Homo sapiens: one gene and its partners. The protein of the gene in region 4 interacts with the protein of the main gene of each other region in a biochemical or structural test. Each region holds a gene or a part of one and is shown on either strand. Other genes may lie near its edges. The genes, in order: PRKCH, CTSS, CSNK1E and OCLN.

Region 1 (7,033 bases), on a different chromosome or scaffold from region 4:
AATCTTGTTAAAAAAATTTGGAAATATATGGAATGCATGCTTTTTTAAAAAAGTATCCTTTATAGGTTCAAAAATGCTTTAAAAAAATAGAGATGGGGTCTTGCTACCTTGTTGACCAGGCTGGTCTTGAACTTGTGGCCTCAAGCCATCCTCCCACTTCAACCTCCCAAAGTGCTGGGATTACAGGTGTGAGCCACTGCATCTGGCCCAAAGGTGCTTTTGAAGTTCAGGATTAAAGAAATACTTATTTATCTTTAGTATTTTAAATTGACATGTAGTTTATTCAGAGAGTTAAATGTGGAATAATTGAATTTACTCCATAATAAATTTATGGTTGCAAGTGGAACTACAGATTACTGACTTAAAAAAAAACTATTGAAGTTGCAGGTTCAAAAAACCCCCAAAACCTAGTGACTTAGTTTTTGCTAGATCCAGAGAAGCTCTTAGCTGTAGGTTATGGATGAGAGGATTCAATATGGTTAAGATCTCAATTCTTCCCAAAGTATTCAATAGGTTCAGTATAATCTCAGTCAAAATCTAAGTTTGTTGTAGAAATTGACAGACTGACTTTAAAATTTATATGGAAATGTAAAGTACTGAGACCAGTCTAAGAATAGTTTTGAAAAAGAACAAGTTGGGGGACTTAGAGTATCTGATTTCAAGGCTAACTGTAACATGACCGTAATCAAGATAATGTGATATTGGAATAAAGAGAGTCATACAGATCAGTGGAATGAATAGAAGAGAGTCTAGGAATAGATCCACACATATATGACCCACTGATTTCTGATAAAGCTGCCAAGAAGGCAACTCAGTGGGGGAAATGATAGTCTTTTCAACTAATGGTGCTTGAACAACTGGATAGCCACATACAGTAATATGAGCCTTGACACTTACCTCACATCCTACAAAGACATTAATTCAAAATGGATTATAGACCTAAATGTAAGAGTTTAACTGTGAAACTTCTATAAGAAAACAAAATTGTAGTGACCTTGGGTTCAGCAAAAAATTTTTAGATAGCGTACAAAAGGCACCAACTATAAAAAAATCAGTAAGTTGGACTTTATCAAAATGAAAAACTATTGCTTCCCAGAGAATGTTTAAGAAAATAAAAACCCAAGCCACAAATGGGGGAAAATAACTGCAATACGTAAATGAAAGATGTGTAACATGAATATATAAAAGAACTCTAACAGCACAATAATAATGAGAAAAATACCTAATTTAAAATCCAACAAATGACTTGTAACTTGTCAAATATTTCAATAGGCACTCACCTTCATGCCAAATAGCACATTAAAAGATGCTCAAAATCATGAGTCATTAAGGAAATGCAAATTAAAACCAAAATGAGATCTCAGTATGTTCCCACTAGAAAGGTTAAAATTAATAAGACTGACCATACCAAGTGTTGGTGAGGAAGTGGAGCACCTGGAACTCTCATATGCTATGGTGAGGAATGTAAAATGGTAAATCATGTTGGAAAATAGTTTGGCAGTTTCTTAAACTATCAAACATATGCCTACTATATAACTTACTGTTTAGTATTTACTAAAAGAAATGAAATCATTCATACAAAAGCTTGTCCACGAGTGTTCATAGCATCTTTATTTGTAATAACCCCCAAAGTGGAAACAACTCAAATGTCAACAGATGAATGTTTAAACAATTGTGGTTTATCCATACAATGGAATATTACTCAGCAATAAAAAAGATGAACTATTACACATGTAACAACAGGAATGAATCTCAGAATAATTATGCTGAGTGAAAGAAACTAGACAAAAAAGTACGGTTTCATTTATGCAAAATTCTAGAAATGAAAAGGAGTCTATAGTGACAGGAAGCAGATCAGTGGGTGCCTAAAAATGGAGAGTGGAGGTAAGGGAGGTGGATTACAAAGGAGGCAGAAACTTTTAGGGGAGATGAATATTTGTGTTATTCTGATTGTGGCAATGATTTCACAGTTATATACATATGTCAAAGCTTATTAAATAGTTCACTTTAAGTATGTGCATGTTACTATATGACAATTATACCTGAATAAAGCTGTGGGGAAAAAAACCAATCAGCGCTTATCCATATTTTACTGAAGGTGTTAAGTAAGATGCTAGTAAATGACAGAATTTCAGCTGAGCCAAGTCTGACTCTTGAAAACTACATTTCCTCTTTAGTGCAGAAAATATTTATGAGAATGGGAGCGTAGAAAAAATGAAATCACAATAAAACAAATTAGTTTCTGATTTTTGGACATGGTCTCATTTTCTAAATTATCACTGTCAGTTTTTTTTCTGCTGCTTCTAGAACATGTTTATTTTGCATAATTTCTCTGGCTTCCAAAATCTGAAGAATTGCCTCTGTTTAAACTCTATTTTCTTCTTTCGTGTACTTGCTCTTGATTTGCTGACCTTCTAAATGGGGACCAGCATCTAATGCTTAATGCAGAGTGCTGGGGACATGGGGAGGCAGGAGGAGCTGGAGGCTGCGTCATGGAAAGACCTTGGCGCCCCCTCAGGAAGGAAGGACTGGCTTGGCAGGATCCCAGGCTGTTTTCCTGGTTCAGCCCTCCCGAAGACATTGTGTTCTCTGCAGCCCTGGAGGGCCTCTTTCTCTCAATTTCTCAGTGAGGTACCTGTTTTGTAATCAGTCCTGTCAGGTGAAGCAGCCATGTTACTACTGGACAATCATGGATTATCTTTTCCCTTCCTTCCTGGATCCAGGTGTCTGAATTTATACCACCAAAATTCTTCCAGATTTTCTATCTAGTGGTTCATTCTCTTTTGTACTTTGTAGTGCCGTTGTTTATTCTCATGATTGATTTTTTTCTGAGCCAATTGGAAGGAATGTCTAACACTGACTGATCAACCCACAGTGTTTAAGAGGAAAAATATATTTTAGAATCTTGAGGGAGTTTTATTTCAGTGTATGTGAATTGTATTGGCTATGTAGCGTCTTCATTTTCATTGTAAGAAGAATTTTGCTACAGTGGGACCGGCTGCTTCTCATCACAAACAGGTTGTGGCTCAGATATTTTCCCCTTTGGAGAGCATTTTCCTGGTCATATTATTATCTTGTTGTCTTTCGTTGCACTCATTGCTCTCTGAGATCATTTTGTTAATGAATTTGCTTATTATACTTTCCTCCTTTAGATTACAAATGGCTTGAGAGCAGGGACCCACCTCTCTTATTCACTGTCCTAACCCTGGGACAATGTCTCATATGTAGTAAACATTAAATATTTGTTAAATGAAATTTTATGTGATTGGGGGACAAGTAAAGTGTAAGTACTTTGGGAGCATCTTTCCATCTTTCTAAAAGAAAGAAATGAAAATAGTTGAGGAGTTACTGGATGAACAGTATTCCTCTGTTAAATCAATCAATGACATACCAATATGTGCTTGAAAGACTGGGCCTGGGCCGGGCGCGGTGGCTCACGCCTGTAATCCCAGCACTTTGGGAGGCCGAGGCGGGTGGATCATGAGGTCAGGAGATCGAGACCATCCTGGCTAACAAGGTGAAACCCCGTCTCTACTAAAAATACAAAAAATTAGCCGGGCGCGGTGGCGGGCGCCTGTAGTCCCAGCTACTCGGGAGGCTGAGGCAGGAGAATGGCGTGAACCCGGGAAGCGGAGCTTGCAGTGAGCCGAGATTGCGCCACTGCGGTCCGCAGTCCGGCCTGGGCAACAGAGCGAGACTCCGTCTCAAAAAAAAAAAAAAAAAAAAAAAAAGAAAGACTGGGCCTGACTGCTATATTCTTTGAATATGGTAATGGATTGAAAACCTTGTGTATGGAAAATTCCCTGCTCTTACGTCATTTTAAAAGACTATGATTTTAAAACTTGTAATACGTTATAACGTTTTTCACTTATAATTTTCACGCCCAAAATGTTAAAGTCAGGGCAGAAGCAAGACATCAGCATTTAAAAGGTTGTGCCTCAGCCTTGGAGAGGAATGAGGTTGGTGGGTGGAACGTGAATCATTTTATCTTATGCAACTCTTAGTGAAGTTTTGGTATCTAGTAAGTGTTAAGAATGGTGATTAGTGGTGATGGTAAAAGTGTGGTGCATTTTTATGAGAAGAGTAGCATTTGCGTAGAATAATAGAGGTGCCTGGGATTTTTGGTAGTCCTTTTTTATTTAATAAAGCAACTGGGGCCGCGTGCTATGGCTTGCGTCTGTAATCCCAGCACTTTGGGAGGCCAAGGCAATAGGATCCCTTGGGCCCAGGAGTTTGAGACCAGCCTAAGTAAAATAGTGAGACCCCATCTCCACAAAAAAATAAAATTAGCCAGGCATGGTAGCACATGCCTCTAGTCCCAGCTACTTGGGAAGCTGAGGTGGGAGGATCACTTGAGCCTGGGAGGTTGAGGCTGCAGTGAGCCATGATCATGTCACTGTACTCTAGCTTAAATGACAGAGCAAAACCCTGTCTCAAAAAAAAAAAAAAGCTGAAAAAACAGTCAACTAGATTGTGTTCCCCTTTTGTGTTGACTTCTTAGCTCCACTTTATTAGAATGTGATAAAAATGAGACCTAAGTGGAAACAATCCCTGTCCATTGTTTTCCACTCTTATCATTACTGTATCCAAAATAGTCTTTCTCAATTGCCAAACCAATAGTCATTTCTTTATTTAAAACTCCTCCTCTGTGGTTCTCCACTGCTCTTAGATAAACTCCTGAGTCTTTTTTTTTTTTTTTTTTTTGAGACAGAATCTCTCTCTGTTGCCCAGGCTGGAGTACAGTGGCACGATCTCGGCTCACTTCAACCTCCGCCTCCCAGGTTCAAGCGATTCTCCTGCCTCAGCCTCTCAGTAGCTGGGATTACAGGCACACACCACCACGCCTGGCTAATTTTTATATTTTTGGTAGAGACAGGGTTTTGCCATGTTGGCCAGGCTGGTCTCAAACTCCTGACTTCAGGTGATCCGCCCGCCTTAGCCTCCCAAAGTGCTGGGATGCAGGCATGAGTCACTGCACCCAGCCAAAGTCCAGAGTCTTTAAAATGGTATAGGATGTTCTCCATGATCTGTACCCTGTGTTCCTCTTGAGCCTTTTCTCTTACATTTCCCCAAATTACAATGAGCATCTTTCAGTTCCTCAAAAGGAGGAACACTTCGCTTTGCTAATTCTTCCTTGTGCTTCAGGTCTCATTATGGGCATTAATTACCCAGACAACTGTCCCTGATGTGCCAGTCTGGGTTTGGTCCTCCTCCTAGTGTTCCCTCAGTATCCTGAGATCTCTTTTGCCGCTGTCTCCTCCAACCTGAAAGAACGGACGTATGAATGGATTGGCCTCTAATGGAAGCGTGTGACACTGGTCACAGGGAGTTCAGGGTGTAGTTGTTTGAATGATTGACTAAGATTCATCCGCTTGGCTCTTGTAGTAGTGACTCTGACAGACTATTACATGTTTCTATTTGAAATGCCAAGCCCTAGGTGAGCATCCAGCCACCAATGAGCATGTACTAAGTACCAGGCATTGTGCTCTATCCTGTAAAGTCAAGTGGACAGGACACACATGACCCATTCTTTCGTAGGGCTTGTAATTCCAAGGGGGAGGGAGATTGGGATAAAAAGCAAACAAAAGCAACTAGGGAATTACAGAAGTACTTACAGGCAGGTAAGCCCCTGGTTTGGGGAGGTGGGGAACATCTTCCTGGAGGAAAAACAAAGAGCTGACTTTTAAGGACCCAGCCTAGAGAGCCACAGCCTGCTTCAGTTAAATGACTGTGAACAGTCTTTGCTCAAAAGAAGAAAAGGAACTTCTGACCTGATAATGTTTCCCAGAGGGACATCGCAGATGCCCTTTTGAAAGGTAAATGTTCCTGACCCACAGAAATGTTTCCATCTTTGGAAAGTTTGGGAGGGAACTGTTTCCATGCTTGTGAACAGATGACCTGCAAAAGAACTTTTGACTCCACAAAGGCAGAAAGTAGGAACACTATATTTGAACCATCAAATACCTTAAGTTTTGTATAGATCATAAAATAATCATAGATGTTGAAGCAGGATGATCATCTAATTCAGAACAACAACAAAAAGCCTGATAGCTCTTAGGCCTGCAGACAGCCTGTAGGTCTATTCATTTGGCACAGATGTTTTTAACATTGAAACTGAAGGCATTTAGTGCTGTGGTGCTCCAGTTTGCCACAGACCCCTCCACTCCCTGTTATGAAACCAACTCTCTTGACTCATTACTTGCTTGGACCTGGGACATTTTAAATTTTGTGACACTATAGCTCAAGCCTTTGTTTTCTGAATGTGGGAACCAAAGTTCCAGCCAAATCATTACTGTTGCCCTAACAGGGGTGTCCAATCTTTTGGCTTCCCTGGGCCACGTTGGAAGAAGAATTGTTTTGGGTCACACATAAAATACGCTAACACTAACGATAGCTGATGAGCTCAAAAAAAATCCTCAAAAAAATCTCATAATGTTTTAAGAAAGTTTACGAATCTGTGTTGGGCTGCATTCAAAGCTGTCCTGAGCTGCATGCAGCCTATGGGCTGTGGGTTGAACAAGCTTGCCCTAACTCATGAGAAGTGTAATATACATACATTTAATATGTATTAATATCTATCTAATCTATATCTACAAAAATACAGATATACTTACTTAGATTTATTTAGATATGTAATAATTTATTAATTTATAAAATGCATTAGTTTAGATATATATTTACTTAGATTTTTACTTACATAAAGATTTGTGTCCTAGTATTTCAGAGAAAGCTAGCTTACTAGTAAATATATGGGGAGTTAACTTTTACTGCAAATTAGTATTATATTAACTATCCAATTTAAAAAGAAAGCAAACTCTGCCAGGCTGGTATGGTGGTGTGCACCTGTAGTCCCGTGTACTGGGGAGGCTGAGGCAGGAGGATTGCTTGAGCCTAGGAGTTCAAGGCTGCAGTGAGAGCTATGATCGAGCTGCTGCTCCTCAGCCTGGGCAACAGAGTGAGACTTTGTCTCAAAAAAAGAAACAACAACAACAACAAAAAAACCCCTCTTTTTATTTCGTTATACAACTCCCAG
Region 2 (5,124 bases), on a different chromosome or scaffold from region 4:
TTTTGGTGACTTTTTCATTAATATAAATTTATTTACTCAAAAGACTATCCTTAAAATAGAGATTATGTCTTTGGATTTTTTGCTTTTGGTGTTAAAATGTATTTTCTTTTACAACATAATGGTGACAGTAAGTAGTATGGTTTTTATTTATTTTCTTTTTTTGAGACAGTCTCACTCTGTTGCCCAGGCTGGAGTGCACAGGCGCAATCTCGGCTTACTGCAACCTCTGCCTTGCCTCCCAGGTTCAAGCGATTCTCCTACCTCAGCCTCTCGAGTAGCTGGGACTACAGGCTCATGCTACCATGCCCAGCTAGTTTTTGTATTTTTAGTAGAGACGGGGTTTCACCATGTTGATCAGGCTGGTCTCGAACTCCTGACCTCAAATGATCTGCCCGTCTCTGCCTCCCAAAGTGCTGGGATTACAGGCTTGAGCCACCGTGCCCGACCAATAGTATGCTTTTTAAAAAAGATGACCATACAGCCGGGCGTGGTGGCTCACACCTGTAATCCCAACTCTTTGGGAGCCTGAGGCGGGTAGATCACTTGAGGTCAGGAGTTGGAGACCAGCCTGACCAACATGGAGAAACCCCATCTCTACTAAAAATACAAAATTAGCCGTCGTGGTGGCACATGCCTGCAGTCCTAGCTACTTGGGAGGCTGAGGCAGGAGAATCACTTGAACCCAGGAGATGGAGGCTGCGGTGAGCTGAGATTGCACCATTGCACTCCAGTCTGGGCAACAAGAGCGAAACTTCACCTCCAAAAAAAAAAAAAAGATGTCCATACATGCTAATTTTAAAATTGATAACTGTATATCTATCTGTAAAAACTTTTTGAACTCCTCTAAGTCCATTAAATCAAAAAGTGAAACACTGATCTACTCGAACCCTAATCCGACCCATGATTTTTCTCTGCAACATCTCTAACAAGTAGCCTCTGCTGCAGAGTAGGTAAGGAATACAGGTGCATGCCACCATGCCTGGCTAATTAAAAAAAAATTTTTTTTGTAGAATCAGGGACTTGCTATTTTGCCCAGGCTGCTCTCAAACTCTGGCCTCAAACAATCCTCCCACTTCAGCCTCTCAAAGCACTTGGATTACAAGTGTGAGCCACCATGCCTGGCTCATTTTTCAATAGCTTTAATTATGAGAAAGTCAGCTCCACTTCTAGATCAAAAAGCTCTTTCAGAGCTGCATTTTTGTTGTTTGCTTTAGAATTCCCTGCCCTATACCTTTTTCATAGTAGTCACTCAAAAATATTTCTTAATTGACATTCTCTAGAGGAATTTAAGTTTGATAGAAAATCATTACACATGATACTGTTATCAAAAAATTTAGAGATAAAGGCTTATAAAGGATACTAATACTCTTTCTTTAGAGAAGGCATATTTGCAAAGTAGGAGGATTAAAGGACTGGGATGGATCTTACTATAGTTTTCCTTAGGTATTAAGTCTATTCATCAATATAGCACTAAAGCTTTCCAAACCATTATTTTGAGTTACCTGAAATCCCTGGAGAAATTATTACCTTATTTCATTCTAATTTTGTTTTACGGCCTTTCATATGTAATCACTTATAGGAGAAAAACAATGAGATAAAAAGTTGATAACATGGTTTGATTGTACGCATTTGTAATTTTGTATTATTTCTTTTTCTAAAGCTGGGGCCACAACTTTGGTGAAGAAGGATATATTCGGATGGCAAGAAATAAAGGAAATCATTGTGGGATTGCTAGCTTTCCCTCTTACCCAGAAATCTAGAGGATCTCTCCTTTTTATAACAAATCAAGAAATATGAAGCACTTTCTCTTAACTTAATTTTTCCTGCTGTATCCAGAAGAAATAATTGTGTCATGATTAATGTGTATTTACTGTACTAATTAGAAAATATAGTTTGAGGCCGGGCACGGTGGCTCACGCCTGTAATCCCAGTACTTGGGAGGCCAAGGCAGGCATATCAACTTGAGGCCAGGAGTTAAAGAGCAGCCTGGCTAACATGGTGAAACCCCATCTCTACTAAAAATACAAAAAATTAGCCGAGCACGGTGGTGCATGCCTGTAATCCCAGCTACTTGGGAGGCTGAGGCACGAGATTCCTTGAACCCAAGAGGTTGAGGCTATGTTGAGCTGAGATCACACCACTGTACTCCAGCCTGGATGACAGAGTGGAGACTCTGTTTCAAAAAAACAGAAAAGAAAATATAGTTTGATTCTTCATTTTTTTAAATTTGCAAATCTCAGGATAAAGTTTGCTAAGTAAATTAGTAATGTACTATAGATATAACTGTACAAAAATTGTTCAACCTAAAACAATCTGTAATTGCTTATTGTTTTATTGTATACTCTTTGTCTTTTTAAGACCCCTAATAGCCTTTTGTAACTTGATGGCTTAAAAATACTTAATAAATCTGCCATTTCAAATTTCTATCATTGCCACATACCATTCTTATTCCTAGGCAACTATTAATAATCTATCCTGAGAATATTAATTGTGGTATTCTGGTGATGGGGTTTAGCAACTTTGATGGAAGAAAATATTAGGCTATAAATGTCCTAAGGACTCAGATTGTATCTTTGTACAGAAGAGGATTCAAAACGCCACGTGTAGTGGCTCATGCCTGTAATCCCAACACTTTGGGAGGCTGAAGTAGGAGGATCGTCTTGAGCCCAGGAGTTCAAGACCAGCCTGGACAACATAGTGAGACCTTGTCTCCACAAAAATAAAAAAGAAACTATCCAGGAGTGGTGGTGTGTGCCTGTGGTCCCTGCTATGCAGATGTCTAAGACAGGAGGATCACAAGAGCCCAGGAGGTTGAGAATGCAGTGAGCTTGTAATTGCACCACTGCACTCCAGCCTGGGTGACAGAGCAAGACCCTGTCTTAAAAAAAGAGGATTCAACACATATTTTTATATTATGTTAAAGTAAAGAAATGCATAAAAGACAAGCACTTTGGAAGAATTATTTTAATGATCAACAATTTAATGTATTAGTCCAAATTATTTTTACGTAGTCATCAACAATTTGACCAGGGCCTTTATTTGGCAAATAACTGAGCCAACCAGAATAAAATAACCAATACTCCACTGCTCATATTTTTATCTAATTCAGATGGATCTTCCTTACAACTGCTCTAGATTAGTAGATGCATCTAAGCAGGCAGCAGGAACTTTAAATTTTTTAAGTTCATGTCTATGACATGAACAATGTGTGGGATAATGTCATTAATATATCCTAAATTAACCTAAACGTATTTCACTAACTCTGGCTCCTTCTCCATAAAGCACATTTTAAGGAACAAGAATTGCTAAATATAAAAACATAAATAATACCATAATACATGGCTATCATCAAAAGTGTATAGAATATTATAGTTTAAAAGTATTTAGTTGATTACTTTTCAGTTTTGTTTTGTTTTTTGAGACGGAGTCTCACTCTGTTGCCCAGGCTGGAGTGCAGTGGCACCATCTCAGTTCACTGCAACTTCTGCCTCCCGAGTTCAAGCGATTCTCCTGCCTCAGCCTCCCGAGTAGCTGGAATTATAGGCGTGCACCACCACGCCCAGCTAATTTTTGTATTTTTAGTAAAGACAGGGTTTTGCCACATTAGCCAGGCTGGTCTCAAACTCCTGACCTCAGGTGATCCACCCACCCCAGCCTCCCAAAGTGCTAAGATTACAGGCGTGAGCCACTGAGCCCAGCCTACTTTTCAGTTTTTAACATAATTTTTGTTTTATCCACAACTTTTCAAGTATTGAAAGTAGAATAAAAACATGGGTTCTTAGTCTTTAGCTATCTGTTAAAGCCTATGAATGCCTTCTTAAAATCATGTTTTTAAATGCATAAAATATATAGGATTACAAAGGAATCTAATTATATCGAAATACAGTTATTAAAATGTTAAAAGATAAGTTTGTTATATATTAATATGCATGCTTCTTTATAAATGCATTAAATAAGAGTTAATAGCTATCCTAAATTTGAAATAGTGATAAGCATAATGAAAATAGATGCAAAAAACTAATGTGATATGAAAATATCTGGGTTTTTCTTTTGATGATGAAGTATTGCTAATATTACCGTGGTTTATGAACTATGTTCAGAATTGAAGAAAATCCTAACTTTCAGTTAGAGGTTAGTGACGGGGTTCAGGACACCCTACACAAAATACAGCACTTTGACATATTGAATATTTTAAGCTGAAGGCATTTGAGGAAATTGCAGAAGCAGGAAGGTGACTCTGACCTTCTGCCTGCTGTTCTCCCCAGAAGCAGCCATAAAACCTGGGAAGGATTTTCTGACCTTCCCCTGAAGTAGATCATAAGACTGTCATGTAAGAGGTGCTCTCCTGGCACCCAGAGAAAAGGAGCATCCTTACCTCCAAAAGCACAGGGACACAAAGAGGAATCTAAACAAACAGGCCTCTCAGTTTCCCCCAGTTTATTACATTTAGCTTGTTCACACTTTGCCCTATGACATTTCTACATCACTGGCTGCTCTTCATCAAACCTACTATAAAAAACATTCAAGTTCAACTGTTTCTTTGGGCCTTTATTTCCTTATGGAGCCCCTCGTGTCGTGTAAAACTTATATTAAATAAATGTGCATGCTTTTCTCTTGCTAATCTCTCTTTTGTTATAGAGATCTCAGCCCTAAACCTAGGATGGATAGAAGGAAACATATGTTCTCCCCTACATTAGTAAAAATAAAAATGGAATTTTTTACCCATACAAATTCATAAATTCCCTGAATTCTATCCAAGGAGACTTTGAGAGTTGTGGCTCTCAAGTAAAGAATGCCTGAACTGCTCTCCCTCCCCCTCCCCCTCCCCCTCCCCCTCTCCCCACGGTCTCCCTCTCATGCGGAGCCGAAGCTGGACTGTACTGCTGCCATCTCGGCTCACTGCAACCTCCCTGCCTGATTCTCCTGCCTCAGCCTGACCAGTGCCTGCGATTGCAGCCTCGCGCCACCACGCCTGACTGGTTTTGGTGGAGACGGGGTTTCGCTGTGTTGGCCGGGCGGGTCTCCAGCCCCTAACCACGAGTGATCCGCCAACCTCGGCCTCCCAAGGTGCGGGGATTGCAGACGGAGTCTCGTTCACTCAGTGCTCAATGGTGCCCAGGCTGG
Region 3 (7,033 bases), on a different chromosome or scaffold from region 4:
AGCCTCCTGAGAGCTGGGATTACAGGCGCTCCCACGGGAGCACCTTGGCTAATTTTTGTATTTTTAGTAGAGATGGGGTTTCATCATGGTGGTCAGGCTGGTCTGGAACTCCTTGCCTGGTGATCCGCCTGCCTCAGCCTCCCAAAATGCTGGCACCTGGCCTTCTCCATATACTTTAAATCATCTCTAGATCACTTATAATACCTAATACAATGTAAATGCTATGTAAATAGTTATTGTACTGTATTTTTAATTTTTATATTATTTACCTATTTATTTTTGAGACATGGTCTTGCTCTGTCACCCAGGCTGGAGTGTGGTGGTGTGATCATAGCTCACCGCAACCTTGACTTACTAGGTTCAAGCAGTCCTCCTGCCTCAGCCTCCCAGGTAGCTGGGACCACAGGCACGTGCTACCACGCCTGGCTAATATTTGTATTTTTTGTAGAGATAGGGTCTCACTATGTTGCTTAGGCTGGTCTCGAACCGCTGGACTCAAGTAATCCTCCTCAGCCTCCCAAAGTGGTAGTACTACAGTTGTGCATCACTGCACCCAACCTATTTCTTATTGTTGTGTTGTTATTTTTTATTTTCTCCCCCCACGTATTTTTGATCCATGGTTGAATCGGCAGATGCGGAACCCACAGCAGATGCTGATACGAAGGTATCAGCTGATAAGAAGATGCTGTGTTCTAATTTTTAATTTTTTTTTTTTTTTTTTTGAGATGGAGTCTTGCTCTGTCGCCAGGCTGGAGTGCAGTGGCACAATCTCGGCTCACTGCAACCTCTGCCTCCTGGGTTCAAGCAATTCTCCTGCCTCAGCCTGCCGAGTAGCTGGGATTACAGGCGTGCGCCACTACGCCCAGCTAATTTTTGTACTTTTAATGGAGATGGGGTTTCACCATGTTGGCCAGGATGGTCTTGATCTCTTGACCTTGTGATCCGCCTGCCTCGGCCTCTCAAAGTGCTGGGATTACAGGCGTGAGCCACCGCGCCCGGCCTGTGTTCTAAAATTGATTGTGGTAATGGCTGCGCAAGCTTGTGAATATACTAAAAACGGTGAGTCGCACACTTTGAGTGACTCAATTGGAGAGTTATCTGAATTACATCTCAATAAAGGTGTTGAAAGAAATTGCAACTTATAACACAGTATCCAGTGAAGCGTCCCCCACCCCTTCCTCCCTGACCCACTTAGCCCTGTACAGTCATGTTTCTGTTCAGTGTTTCTTTATGTAGCTAGAGCCAAACACAGATACTTAGTTCCCCACCTTTTTAAAGAAAACTGAAATGAGAGTGTGGAATATACACTGTTCTGTGCTTTGCTTTTTCACTTCCTGTATCTTGGAGATCTTTCCACTTGTGTGCAGAGAGAGCTTCCTGGTTCTTTTTCCATTGTATTCTGTTTTATGGATGGGCTATTCTTTATTTAATCAGCCCCCTCAGGAGGGACATTTGGGTTGTTTCCAAGCTTCTGCTGTTCCAAACAGCCTGCAGCCGACAGCCTTGTCCCCGCCTTGTTTTGCACCGTGCTAGGATGTCAGGTAAACTCCCAGAAGCGGGGTTGCTGGTCAGGGCTGAGTAGCGTCAAATCCCCCTCCAGTGGCGACTCAGCAGTTGACGCCTCCACCACCTGGGAGGAGTGCTCAGCGCCCCCACAGTCTTGCCGACAGACAGGTGTGTTATCTCGTAAGACTTTTGACAATCCTAGGTGAAACATGGTCTTTCACGATCATATTAATTTGCATTTCTCTTACAAGGAGGTTGGGCATCTTTCCCTATGAGTAAGGCTTTTCTATTAATGATTTCTTTCTCTGTGAAGTGTGTGTTTCAAATCCTTTGGCCTATTTTCTGCTGAGTCTTTTTCTGACTGATTTGTAGGAGCTCATTACATATTAGCTCTTTGCCTGTGATAAGAATTGCAAGTGAGTATGTCTCTTAGGACTTTATTTCCGGTGTTTTTGCCATGCAGAAGGGATTCTTTTTTTTTTGGAGAGGAAGGAGCTTTTTTTTTTTTTTTTTAAATGGCTTTAGGATTTTGAATCAGGGATAAAAATAAAAGCTTTGCCTAACCCCAAGGCTATAAGGCAATTCTCCCTTCTTCTAACATTTCATTGTTATTTCTTATTAAACGTTGAGTGGATGCAAAGAATACGTATAGAATACCTGCATGGCCTAAGGTGTCCCTCCCTGGGAACCACCGTCTGACATTTAATCTTTTTCCTTTCTTTCGTGTTTAAATCTGTATTGTCCAGTCTTGTTGCCTGTTTTGATATGGAAACAAGTAGAACTGTGCTTGCACTCTTCTTTTTTTTTTTTTTTTTTTTTTTTTTGAGCTGGAGTTTCACTCCGTCACCCAGGCTAGCGTGCAATGGCACAATCTCGGCTCACTGCAACCTCCGCCTCCTGGGTTCAAGTGATTCTCCTGCCTCAGCCTCCCAAGTAGCTGGGATTACAGATGCCTGCCACTGCGCCCGGCTAATTTTTGTATTTTTGGTACAGACAGGGTTTCACCACCTTGGCTGGGCTGGTCTCGGACTCCTGACCTTGTGATCCACCCGCCTCAGCCTCCCAAAGTATTGGGATTACGGGCGTGAGCCACTGTGCCTGGCCTCGGGTAGAATGTTTTCAAGGTGCACTCGTGTCGTAGCGTGTATCGGTACTTTATTCCTCTTTATTGCTGAATAATATTCCGCCGCATGGAGGCACTGCATTCCATTCATCCTTGCATCTGTGACAGATGTTTGTTGTTTCCACCCTCTGGCTGCTGTGAGGAGTGCACCCCTGGGACCAGGGTCATTGTGTGAAGCAGGCATCCTTTCCTCTTCACTGCCGCCTGGGATTCCCTGGTGACTGCGCCACTGTTCCTGTTCTTCTGCTGCTGAGCACTTGGGCTGTTTGCTCCTGTGTCCATCCTTGTCCTGTCCCCCTGGTGCACACGTGTTTCTGAAGGATGTACACTCAGGAGTGGGGTTGCTTGGGCGAGCGTTTGTTTATGTTCAGCTTCACCCAAGAGGTGCACAGGGGCTGTGCCAACTCACACCCACACCTTTATTTCTTATATACAAACTTTTCCTCTACTTGAGATTTCTCCTGGTTGTGGTGTGAGCCATGGTGTCTTTTCTCAGGTGGCCAGCCGGTTGTTCAGGGACATTATTAATGAACAGTCTCATCTTTTCCTCTGATGTGAGGTCCTGCCTTTCTCCTGTCTTGAACTCCTCCTGAGGCTGTGTCCCTGGGGGTTGTTCTGGCCTGTTTGTGTCCTGTTGCGACACTGTCCTACTCCTCCTGCTGGGCTCGCTGCTGGCCCCAGGAAGGAGACACCCTGTCGCCCAGCCTAGCCCCAGCCCTTCATCTCATCCACCCATACAGCCAGGGAAACTGAGGCAAGGTACACTTTGGGCTTGGTCTTTCTTGTGACTTCTTGAGTTGGGCAGTGGGCCCAGGCAGAGAGCGGGGCCTTGGTGTGTGTGAGGGTATTTTCTTAGAGCCCCTTGAGAAGCCAGGAGTGGACTGGGGGAGACGGGGAGGTGCAGGCAGGACCTCTGACCTATGCTGGAGGCCAGCAGAGCCGGGGTTGATCTCAAGGCCGCCATTTACAGGTCAGGTGACCTTGAGCTGGGTCTCTAGCTGGGTCTCTGTTTTCTCATCTCTACAAGGGGGTTGAGAATCGAATGAGACACTGGATTAGAATGTGCAGGGCTGCCTCTGAAGGCATCAGCATTGACTGAGGGGTTGCTGCGGCTGTCCCATCCTCATCCTGTAGGCCAGGGTGGTCCTGGCTTGTTCTGGTGTGTTCGGCAGCCCAGCCCCATTGGGCCTCTTCTGCACGTGCCACCATCTCAACCCGACAGACCTCACTGCCTGAATTTGCTCTAGGACTCAGCCCCCTCCCTTAGGTGGTCTGTGAGCCTTTTGCATACCTGACCCTTGCCCCACTCACATCGGGCCTTCTTGTCGCCCCAACCTGTGGCCCTGGGTAGCCCTTGTGTGTCACCTCTGTCCCTCACAGCGCTGACCTTCTTTCCCCTCAGGAACCCTTTGCCGGGGCTCCTTTGCCCCCTTCCCAGCCTCCCCCAAGAGCTCCTCAAGGGCAGATGGCCCCGGGCCCGGCACACGCCAGATCTCAGAAATGCTTAGTGGGGCGCCTGGGACTGCCTGGCCTTTGAGGGTGACCCTGGTCCCTTGCCTCCCTGCCCCGGGCAGGTGCCAACATCGCCTCTGGTGAGGAAGTCGCCATCAAGCTGGAGTGTGTGAAGACAAAGCACCCCCAGCTGCACATCGAGAGCAAGTTCTACAAGATGATGCAGGGTGGCGGTGAGCGCAGGGTGGGCGGCGGCGGGCGCCGGGTGGGTGGCGGTGGGCAGCCATGAGCACAGGGTGGGCCGGGCGTGGCTGGCTGCCTGCCTCTGACCCCTGACAGAGGCCCTCTGCTTGACCCCCAGTGGGGATCCCGTCCATCAAGTGGTGCGGAGCTGAGGGCGACTACAACGTGATGGTCATGGAGCTGCTGGGGCCTAGCCTCGAGGACCTGTTCAACTTCTGTTCCCGCAAATTCAGCCTCAAGACGGTGCTGCTCTTGGCCGACCAGATGGTGAGTCCCCGTCCCCTCCATCCCCAGCCAGATGCCTGTGGGCCCAGGATACCAGCCCTGCCTCCTGCCCCCAGAGGATGCCAGAGGATGGGCCTGGGCCAGGGGACCTTGTCCACTGGCTATAGAATTGTAGGTGTTTATTTATTTTTTGAGGCGGAGTCTCACTCTGTCGCCCAGGCTGGAGCGCAGTGGTGCGATCTCAGCTCGTTGCAACATCCGCCTCCCAGGTTCACGCGATTCTCCTGCCTCAGCCTCATGAGTAGCTGGGATTACAGGCACCTGCCACCACGCTGGGCTAATTTTTGTATTTTTAGTAGAGACAGAGTTTTACCAAGTGATCCGCCCATCTTAGCCTCTCAAAGTGCTGGGATTACAGGCGTGAGCCACCGTGCCCAGCCAAGTTGTTTATTTAAAATGTGATTTCAGGCCCAACTCCAGACCTGCCGAGTCAGGGCCTGGGACTCTGCCTGGGGTAGTTTTATTTATTTATTTCAAAAATATCATTTAATTGTAAGAAATAGAGATGGGGGTCTCACTGTGTTGACCAGGCTGGTCTCAAACTCCTGGCCTTGAGCAGTCTTCCCATCTTGGCCTCCCAAGATGGGAATTAACACGGGATCACAGGCATGATCCACCACGTCTGGCCTGCCCTGGGTAATGTAAAGCCTGCGGTCGGTCACACAGACCTGGTCCTGTTCCAGACCAGTGACCGTAGGTGAACGCCGAACCTCTCTGAGCCTCAGTGGCCTCATGTGAGAGTCTCTCCTTTGTTGGTTGTTGAGGGGATTAGGTGAGATACCATTCAGCGCCTTGCCAAAACAGGCCCCTCTAACAGGCTGTTGTTAAGTACTAAGCCCTTCATCAGCATAGGGAGGAAAGCTTCTTAAAAATACAAAACTGTAGAATTTTGAACTTGGAATGGAATGTGGAGATCTCGTACAGGGGTTTTAATCTTGGTCTGCAAAAGCCCTGCGATGTAGGCTGAAGGTGTGTGAGCAGAGGGTCGCCAGAGCCCCTCATGGTGTGAAACTCAAGAAAGGTGCAGGAGATGTTGAGCTGTGCTGAACCTGGGGCCAGAGCCAGAGGCCACGGCATGTGGATGGATATTAGTTTGAGTTTTAAAAACTCGACTGAAAAGGTGGCTCAAGTCTGTAATCCCAGCACTTTGGGAGGCCGAGGCAGGCGGATCTCCTGAGATCGGGAGTTTGAGACCAGTCTGACCATCATGGTGAAACGCCATCTCTGCTAAAAATACAAAAAATTAGCCAGGTGTGGTGGCGCGTGCCTATAGTCCCAGCTATTCGGGAGGCTGAGGCAGGAAAATCACTTGAACCCTGAAGGCAGAAGTTGCAGTGAGCCGAGATTTTGCCACTGCACTCCAGCCTGGGCAACAGACCGAGACTCCATCTCAAAAAAAAAAATATCAAAGGAAAGAGGGCCATGTGCCTGTCTGAGTTTGGCATCCTTCGGAAGCCCTGTCTTTTGTGTTCTGCCTCTGTCACCTCTTCCTGGTCTAGGCTTCCCCCATGTTCCCTGCCTGCCCCTCGCCCACATCTGTTGCCTCTCTGGCTCCCTAAGTCCTGTGAGTGTGGGGCCGGGCAGGCAAGCCTTCCATGGGGAACCAGTTGCCTTTCTAGCAGACTCTTCATTTCTGGATCTTCCCATTAGCTTTCCTGCAATACTCTCTTTCTCTGTCTCACAGCCAACTTGGTGAACTCCCCCTTTAGAGTTCATCCTGATGTCACATTTTCCAGGAGGCCTTCTCTGGCCTGCCCCTTAGTTATCCTTCATGGTCGAAGGCAGGCCTTTCTCCCTCTGCCTTTCCACCTCTGTGGCCCCAGCCCCTGCCTGGCCCAGAGTGCTAGGCAAGGGCCCCTCTGTTGAACAAATGGCCCCCCTCCTCCCCAGATCAGCCGCATCGAGTATATCCACTCCAAGAACTTCATCCACCGGGACGTCAAGCCCGACAACTTCCTCATGGGGCTGGGGAAGAAGGGCAACCTGGTCTACATCATCGACTTCGGCCTGGCCAAGAAGTACCGGGACGCCCGCACCCACCAGCACATTCCCTACCGGGAAAACAAGAACCTGACCGGCACGGCCCGCTACGCTTCCATCAACACGCACCTGGGCATTGGTGAGGGAGCCAGGCCTGGAGCAGTGTGCACCCGGGGCCACTGGCTGGGGCCCAGCTCTCTGGAGCCCTCTCACCCCCTACCCTGATGGAGGCCCCCAGGCTCTTTTCTAGTGAGAAAGTCCCCACCCCGTCTGCCCCCAAGCTCGTGCTTATTCCGTGTCCTTGCACAGTCGGGTCTTCCCCTTCGTAAGCCAAGCTGTGTGTGCCGGGCGCCTTCCCTGGCCCTGCTTCCTCCTCCGCCCTGTTGGTGCAGGCTGGAAGATACAGGCTCAGAGGTTTAACATGGGTTGCTTAAGGTCATGCAG
Region 4 (6,848 bases):
CACATACCTGCGTATGCAGATCAAGAAATATATTTCCCAGTACCTCCCCACCCCCAGCACCCCCACCCTCACTTGTACTACTTTCCAGTGTTTACACTCTCTCCAGAGGGGTCCATCATGCTCACTTCTAACATCATAGAGTTTTGTCTATCTTGCACATTACATAAATGGAACCACACAGTATGTATTTTGTGTGTGATTTCTTTTGCTCAGTATAGTGTTTGTAAGGGTCCATTTGTAGTTCATTACTATTATTTTTTTTAGACGGAGTCTTGCTCTGTTGCCCAGGATGGAGTGCAGTGGCGCAGTCTCAGCTCACTGCAACTTCCGCCTCCCAGGTTCAAGCAATTCTCCTGCCTCAGCCTAGCTGGGATTGCAAGCACGCACCACCATGCCTGGCTAATTTTTGTATTTTTAGTAAAGACATGGTTTCACCACATTGGCCAGGCTGGTCTTGAACTCCCAACCTCAGGTGATCCCCCTGCCTTGGCCTCACAAAGTGCTGGGATTACATGCATGAGCCACCATGCCCGGCCATGGTTCATTAATTTTTTTTTTTTTCCTGAGACAGTGTCTCGCTCTGTCGCCCAGGCTGGAGTGCAGTGGCACAATCTCGGCTCACTGCAACCTCTGCCTCCTGGGTTCAAGCAATTCTCCTGCCTCAGCCTCCCGAGCCACTGGGATTACAGGCAAGCACCACCACACCTGGCTAATTTTCCTATTTTTAGTAGAGATGGGGTTTTACCATGTTGGCCAGGCAGGTCTCAAATTCCTGGCCTCAAGTGATCCACCTGCCTCCGCCTCCGAAAGTGCTGGGATTACAGGCGTGAGCCACCACGCCTGGCCGGTTGATTAATTTTTATTGCTTTGTAGTGTTGTATATAAAATGCAACTTTATTCATCCATTCTATTGTCAATGAACGTTTGGGTTGTTCCCAATTTTTGGCATTTAAAAATATTGCAGCTTCATACATATTTGTAAATGTTTGAGCGTAGAAGTGATGGGCATTTGTCTATCCAGCCTTAGTAGATACTGTCAAATGGCCTTCCAAAGTACTTGTACCAGTTTACATTCCCACCAACCACTACAGACTCCTGTTGCCCTATATCCTTGCTAACACTTGGCATGACAGTCATTATTGACTTAAAACATTAAAAAAAAATTATATTAAAATTTTTGTAAATTACTTATCCAGGTGCTGTGGTTACATGCCTGTAGTCCTAGCTACTAGGGAGACTGAGGCAAAAGGATCCCTTGAACCCAGGAGTTCAAAGCTGCAGGGAGCTATAATTGTACCACTTCACTCCAGCCTGGGCAATAGGATGAGACCCTTTCTAAAATAAGAAAAAAAAATTATAAATTACAGGCATCATGATTTGAAATAAGAGTTTAAAGGGTATACAGTAAAATTTCCCATCTCTCTTATCCCCTATTCAGCTTCCCTTTCCCCAGTCAAATGAGATCACCAGTCTCTTGTTTTACTTACAGTTTTAGATGATGTGTTAGCAAAAAGGCTGGTAAGTTTTCTTGGTCATTTTACAGATTTTTAGAAATGAGGGTATCCTTTGGAAAAACCCAGGTTAGAAGACAGAACTGAGCAAATAGAATCAGCTGCCTGTGTGGTTAGTGATACTGCCAGGCACCTTGCGTATTTTACTTCAATTAACACTCCCAGCAATTCTCTTGACTAAATATTCCATTTCTGTGTTCAATTCTGCCTTCCCAGCAGACCTGTTTTCATTTTGTTGAATTTATGTGATTCATTTTCTCCCTTTTTAGTCTGCAGATTACAAAAGTAAGAAGAATCATTGCAAGCAGTTAAAGAGCAAATTGTCACACATCAAGAAGATGGTTGGAGACTATGATAGACAGAAAACATAGAAGGCTGATGCCAAGTTGTTTGAGAAATTAAGTATCTGACATCTCTGCAATCTTCTCAGAAGGCAAATGACTTTGGACCATAACCCCGGAAGCCAAACCTCTGTGAGCATCACAAAGTTTTGGTTGCTTTAACATCATCAGTATTGAAGCATTTTATAAATCGCTTTTGATAATCAACTGGGCTGAACACTCCAATTAAGGATTTTATGCTTTAAACATTGGTTCTTGTATTAAGAATGAAATACTGTTTGAGGTTTTTAAGCCTTAAAGGAAGGTTCTGGTGTGAACTAAACTTTCACACCCCAGACGATGTCTTCATACCTACATGTATTTGTTTGCATAGGTGATCTCATTTAATCCTCTCAACCACCTTTCAGATAACTGTTATTTATAATCACTTTTTTCCACATAAGGAAACTGGGTTCCTGCAATGAAGTCTCTGAAGTGAAACTGCTTGTTTCCTAGCACACACTTTTGGTTAAGTCTGTTTTATGACTTCATTAATAATAAATTCCCTGGCCTTTCATATTTTAGCTACTATATATGTGATGATCTACCAGCCTCCCTATTTTTTTTCTGTTATATAAATGGTTAAAAGAGGTTTTTCTTAAATAATAAAGATCATGTAAAAGTAACAAATGTGTGAAATTTAAAGATTGTAAATATATATTTACTTTTTTAAGATCAAAGTTTAAACCCCGTGGTTAGAATTTTGTGTGTTTTTAAATACTTTTTATCTTTTTGCATGCCTTTTTTAAAAAACCAACTAGAACTTTTCATTATATCAGAATATCTGATTACATTTATAATTCAATTGTGACTTGAACTGTATCTTACAGGAATGTTCAATTTCTATACATATTTTATAAGGTATTAAACCTGGTGTTTTCTTTCCATAATAACCTGTTTGATGTTATTAGTGCTGTTAACATACAGCAATGGAAAACCACACTCAGGAGTTGTATCTGTTGTTGTTTATACTCCTTTGGATGCTGTGCTGGTTAGTCGTTTCCCATTCCTTTGGCTGTAAGAATGCTGATATGTCTGGGAATAGAATGCTATACCACGAAATACCAAATAATTTCAAATGGTGCCCTTAAATTGTATCACTTTTTTAAAAATTCAGATTCTTATTAGTAAAATTAGTTGATAGCACTGTGCTGACCAAGTTGATTGTGATCATCCCAGCTTAGACTTTTCTAAAAACTTTTTTTTAGAATAATCTATAAACTGAACTTTAGTATGCATTTCAGATATTTAGGTATATAATTTTTTTTTTTTTTTGAGACAGAGTCTCACTCTCACCCAGGCTGGAATGCAGTGGTGCTATCTTGGCTCACTGCAACCTCCACCTCCCGGGTTCAAGCAATTCTCCTGCCTCAGCCTCTCGAGTAGTTGAGACTACAGGTGCCCATCACCATGCGTGGCTAATTTTTGTATTTTTAATAGAGACGGGGTTTTACCATAGTGGCCAGGTTGGTCTTGAACTCCTGACCTTGTGGTCTGCCTGCCTCGGCCTCCCAAAGTGCTGGGATTACAGGCGTGAGCCACCATGCCTGGCCTAAGTGTGTGTGTGTGTGTGTGTGTGTATTTTTTTTTTTTTTTTTTTGAGATGGAGTTTTGCTCTTGTTGAACAGGCTGGAGTGCAATGTCGCGATCTCAGCTCACCACAACCTCCGCCTCCCAGGTTCAAACAATTCTCCTGCCTCGGCCTCCCGAGTAGCTGGGATTACAGGCATGCGCCACCACACCTGGCTAATTTTTTTTTTGTATTTTTAGTAGAGATGGGGTTTCTCCATGTTGGTCAGGCTGGTCTCGAACTCCTGACCTCAGGTGATCCATCCACCTCGGCCTCCCAAAGTGCTGGGATTAGAGGCGTGAGCCACTGTGCCCGGCCTATAATTTTTGATAGATGATTTTGAATTATTTTCCAGAGATAAAATTTTAAATGTTTCCATTATATCACTGATTTATTTCTGCAAATTGAATAAATTCTTAATTTTCTGCATGCACATAATACAAAAGGTATTTTCATAGTTTTGGATTTATACCAAATGAAAAGGATTCTCTTGATGAGCACCTTTAACTGATTTTTCTGTTAAAGTTTTAACAATTTGTTCTTGGAAGTCAGTTCGTGAAGGCAAGTTTGTCAGTATTTTCACAAAACTATTCAGCTGAATCCAGAAAGTGAAACAGCAAGAATTTGCATTGTAAAATTGTGTTATAAAATTGGACTTTGAAATTTCAAAAATAAGAAAAATTTTCATGTGTATTTATACTAAATACCGTTTTAGGAAACTAGGATCAGGGTGTTTCTGTTGGCGTTGGCATTAACTAGCTGGATGTAAATTTGAAAAGCCACTCAAGCAGCTTCCTAGTCTAGAAAGTCAGAGGTTTAGATTAGATTTCCGACATCCCTTCCATTTCTGACCTGTAGTTCTTGTCTGGAATTCTGCTTTGTTATAAACTATTGTTCTAAGGAGTTTGTTGTGATAGCACATAGTTCATTTTGTAAAGATTCCCTGCGTATAAAGTGATGCCCTACATATGTGATTTTGTATTAAAAGTATATAGGATCATTATTTTATTTTGAAAAATTTAAATACAGAAAAGTATAAAATATAAGTACCATCCGCCCAGAAATAACATGTGTTAATGTTTTGTCATATGTGCTTTATATTTTTTGAAATAAAGTGAAGTCAACTAGTATTTATAGTAAATAAGTTACATACACATAAGTACATATATGATATTTAATCCTCACAACGATCTTTTGACATGTGACCATTTCTTATTCTTCTTTTATAGACAAGGAACTAATGATATGATAGATTAACTGGCTGTTGTCACACTAGCAAGTGGCAAAACAAGGGATTAGGATCTTAGTCTCTTCAACTGTTAGATTCTATACTTCCATCCTGTGTTGACTTTGTTAATGGATTGGATAATGTGAGATCACTCTGATGTAAATAAAGTATCCTATATTAATTTCGAGTGCATTTTAAGTACTTGTAACATAAATGCTTCCTGTGAAATATCTGTAAAGACCTGAATGGGTACATGTGTGTAAAGAAGAATCAGGGCAGAAAAGTGCTTTTATCATGGCTCCGGGGACCTTAGCTTCAGTTGGTGTTGTGAGAATTCCTCACACAAGGACATTCTCCTTGCTTCAGCATCAGGATGGAAGTGTTTCTCATCTGGACTTTTTCAAAGACTCAGCTGGAGGAATCAGAATTCATAATTTCCTGGCAGCTCATGATTCTGCTACACTACACCATGCCATCTCTTGTGTGAAAGGACAGATTTGATGGAGGACTATGTCATCCCTCATGCGTTTCTTATTGTCTACATTTATTCTAATGGGAAGAAGTGAGCAAAAACACCTCAATAATTTGGGTAGTTTTTAGAAAACCTTGTTAGTAAATTAGAATAGTGCCACTTTGGCATTATGAGAAAGAAGCATGGATACATAACTAGGGTTTTGTGTATGACTACAACGAAATGCAGAATGGTGTCTCCAAAAGGTTTCCAATTGCTGCCACAAGAACTGCTTGGTATTGCCTACATGTGTTGTCCTATTTTTGCTTTGCCCTTCTGCAGTTACTTGCTGTGGGACCTTGGAGAAATTAACTTAGCCTCTCTGTACTTCAGTTTTTTGTATTTGTAAAATATATTTGTAATAATCTCATAGTTAAGAAGGTAGTTAATGTGTGACTCAGTCCTTGTCTAAAAGTAAATATGCCTAGCTACCCCCATCTTCCAAAGCCAGAAGGTGAAACTTTAACAAGTTTTCTAAAAGCAAATTGTGTTTTTTAAAAGTGCATGTGTCATCCAATCCCATATGATTGATCTGTGCTGGGTGCAGCCTTAGAATGTAAATTCTTTTGAATTCTAGGCAGAGAATGCAGGATTGGCATTCTAAATATTTGTACATGATAAACAAATGCTTCTTTAGGTTAGAGCAAATAGTTTACTTATCAAGATCACAATTGTTAGATACTGTTGTCAATTACAGAGGTTTTAGATGAGGCTTTCTGGAATGATTTAGTTTCCCTGTAAGGGAGCCTGTCTATTGGAATAGACAGGTTCACTTCTCCCAGTCTTTCAAGTTGCATGCTTTTTATATCTGATTCCACTGGCTGAGCTGATTGTGAATGTCCTAACCCTGTTGATTGTGTCTGGCCACTCATGGGCAAAGAACAGATTATCCATTCTTTATAGTTGTCTTTTAGTTTTACAAGTTGAAAAAACATCTGAGTAGGTTAGATAATTTATTCTACCACTTTGTAAATGATTAGAATATGTCAGTCATAATCATGCCAAGAGATTATGGATTTATGCATATTTTGTTTTGCTGTAGTACCATTCCTAGTTGAATCTTAACATCCATGTCTAAAATCTATACAGAACAAATATTACAGTTGGGAAAACTGTTTCAGTCTCCTCTCTTCGCAAATATGCTTTATATTTATTGGGGAGTCCTCTATCTTTTTCCTGGTTTTCCTTAAAGCCTTCCCAGGCTGATGGATAACAAACATATGCAAGAAACTTGGGGCTTGGGATTCCTCTAGGCTGTTTGTCCTAGAGGAATGCATCCCGTCTTGCAAATAGGATGGTCAATTAAGATGGAAGGAAGCAAAAGTGTGGATAGGAAGGAAGGGCACAAAAGGAAAAGTGTGGAATTTGTGTGTGAGTCCTCTAATGAGGTCAAAGGTGGGAGGGAGGCAAGCATGGAAGCTTCCTGGCACTGCGATACTAATTTCCCCTCCTCTCCCTTTTAAAATCCTGTCTTCTGGGAGGAAATGAGACTGATTATGGAGTTCCCACTAAGCCCTGCAGGGTTGGTGGAGACAACCCCATTTTACACATTAGTTCATAGACTTGGGTTGTGACTTGCTTGAGGTCACCCAGCCAGTGTGTCAGAGCCTGATTTTAAATCCAGGGCTGTTCTTTCCACTGCTATGCA

The links.
Region 1: the proteins of OCLN (region 4) and PRKCH form a complex in vitro, tested with the Homo sapiens proteins (one study listed by IntAct).
Region 2: of the proteins of OCLN (region 4) and CTSS, one has a biochemical effect on the other in vitro, tested with the Homo sapiens proteins (one study listed by IntAct).
Region 3: the proteins of OCLN (region 4) and CSNK1E form a complex in vitro, tested with the Homo sapiens proteins (one study listed by BioGRID and IntAct).

The regions. Positions count from the first base shown.
Region 1 is NC_000014.9:61,324,551-61,331,583, forward strand, and holds part of PRKCH (protein kinase C eta type), read left to right. Parts: intron 1-7,033. UniProt on the Homo sapiens protein: Calcium-independent, phospholipid- and diacylglycerol (DAG)-dependent serine/threonine-protein kinase that is involved in the regulation of cell differentiation in keratinocytes and pre-B cell receptor, mediates regulation of epithelial tight junction integrity and foam cell formation, and is required for glioblastoma proliferation and apoptosis prevention in MCF-7 cells.
Region 2 is NC_000001.11:150,729,682-150,734,805, reverse strand, and holds the end of CTSS (cathepsin S isoform 1 preproprotein), read left to right. Parts: intron 1-1,660; coding exon 1,661-1,760; 3' UTR 1,761-4,618; downstream 4,619-5,124. UniProt on the Homo sapiens protein: Thiol protease. Key protease responsible for the removal of the invariant chain from MHC class II molecules and MHC class II antigen presentation. The bond-specificity of this proteinase is in part similar to the specificities of cathepsin L.
Region 3 is NC_000022.11:38,300,419-38,307,451, reverse strand, and holds part of CSNK1E (casein kinase I), read left to right. Parts: intron 1-4,203; coding exon 4,204-4,314; intron 4,315-4,442; coding exon 4,443-4,591; intron 4,592-6,499; coding exon 6,500-6,728; intron 6,729-7,033. Other genes in the region: TPTEP2-CSNK1E (casein kinase I), read left to right, coding at 4,204-4,314, 4,443-4,591, 6,500-6,728.
Region 4 is NC_000005.10:69,551,790-69,558,637, forward strand, and holds the end of OCLN (occludin), read left to right. Parts: intron 1-1,780; coding exon 1,781-1,882; 3' UTR 1,883-6,315; downstream 6,316-6,848. UniProt on the Homo sapiens protein: May play a role in the formation and regulation of the tight junction (TJ) paracellular permeability barrier.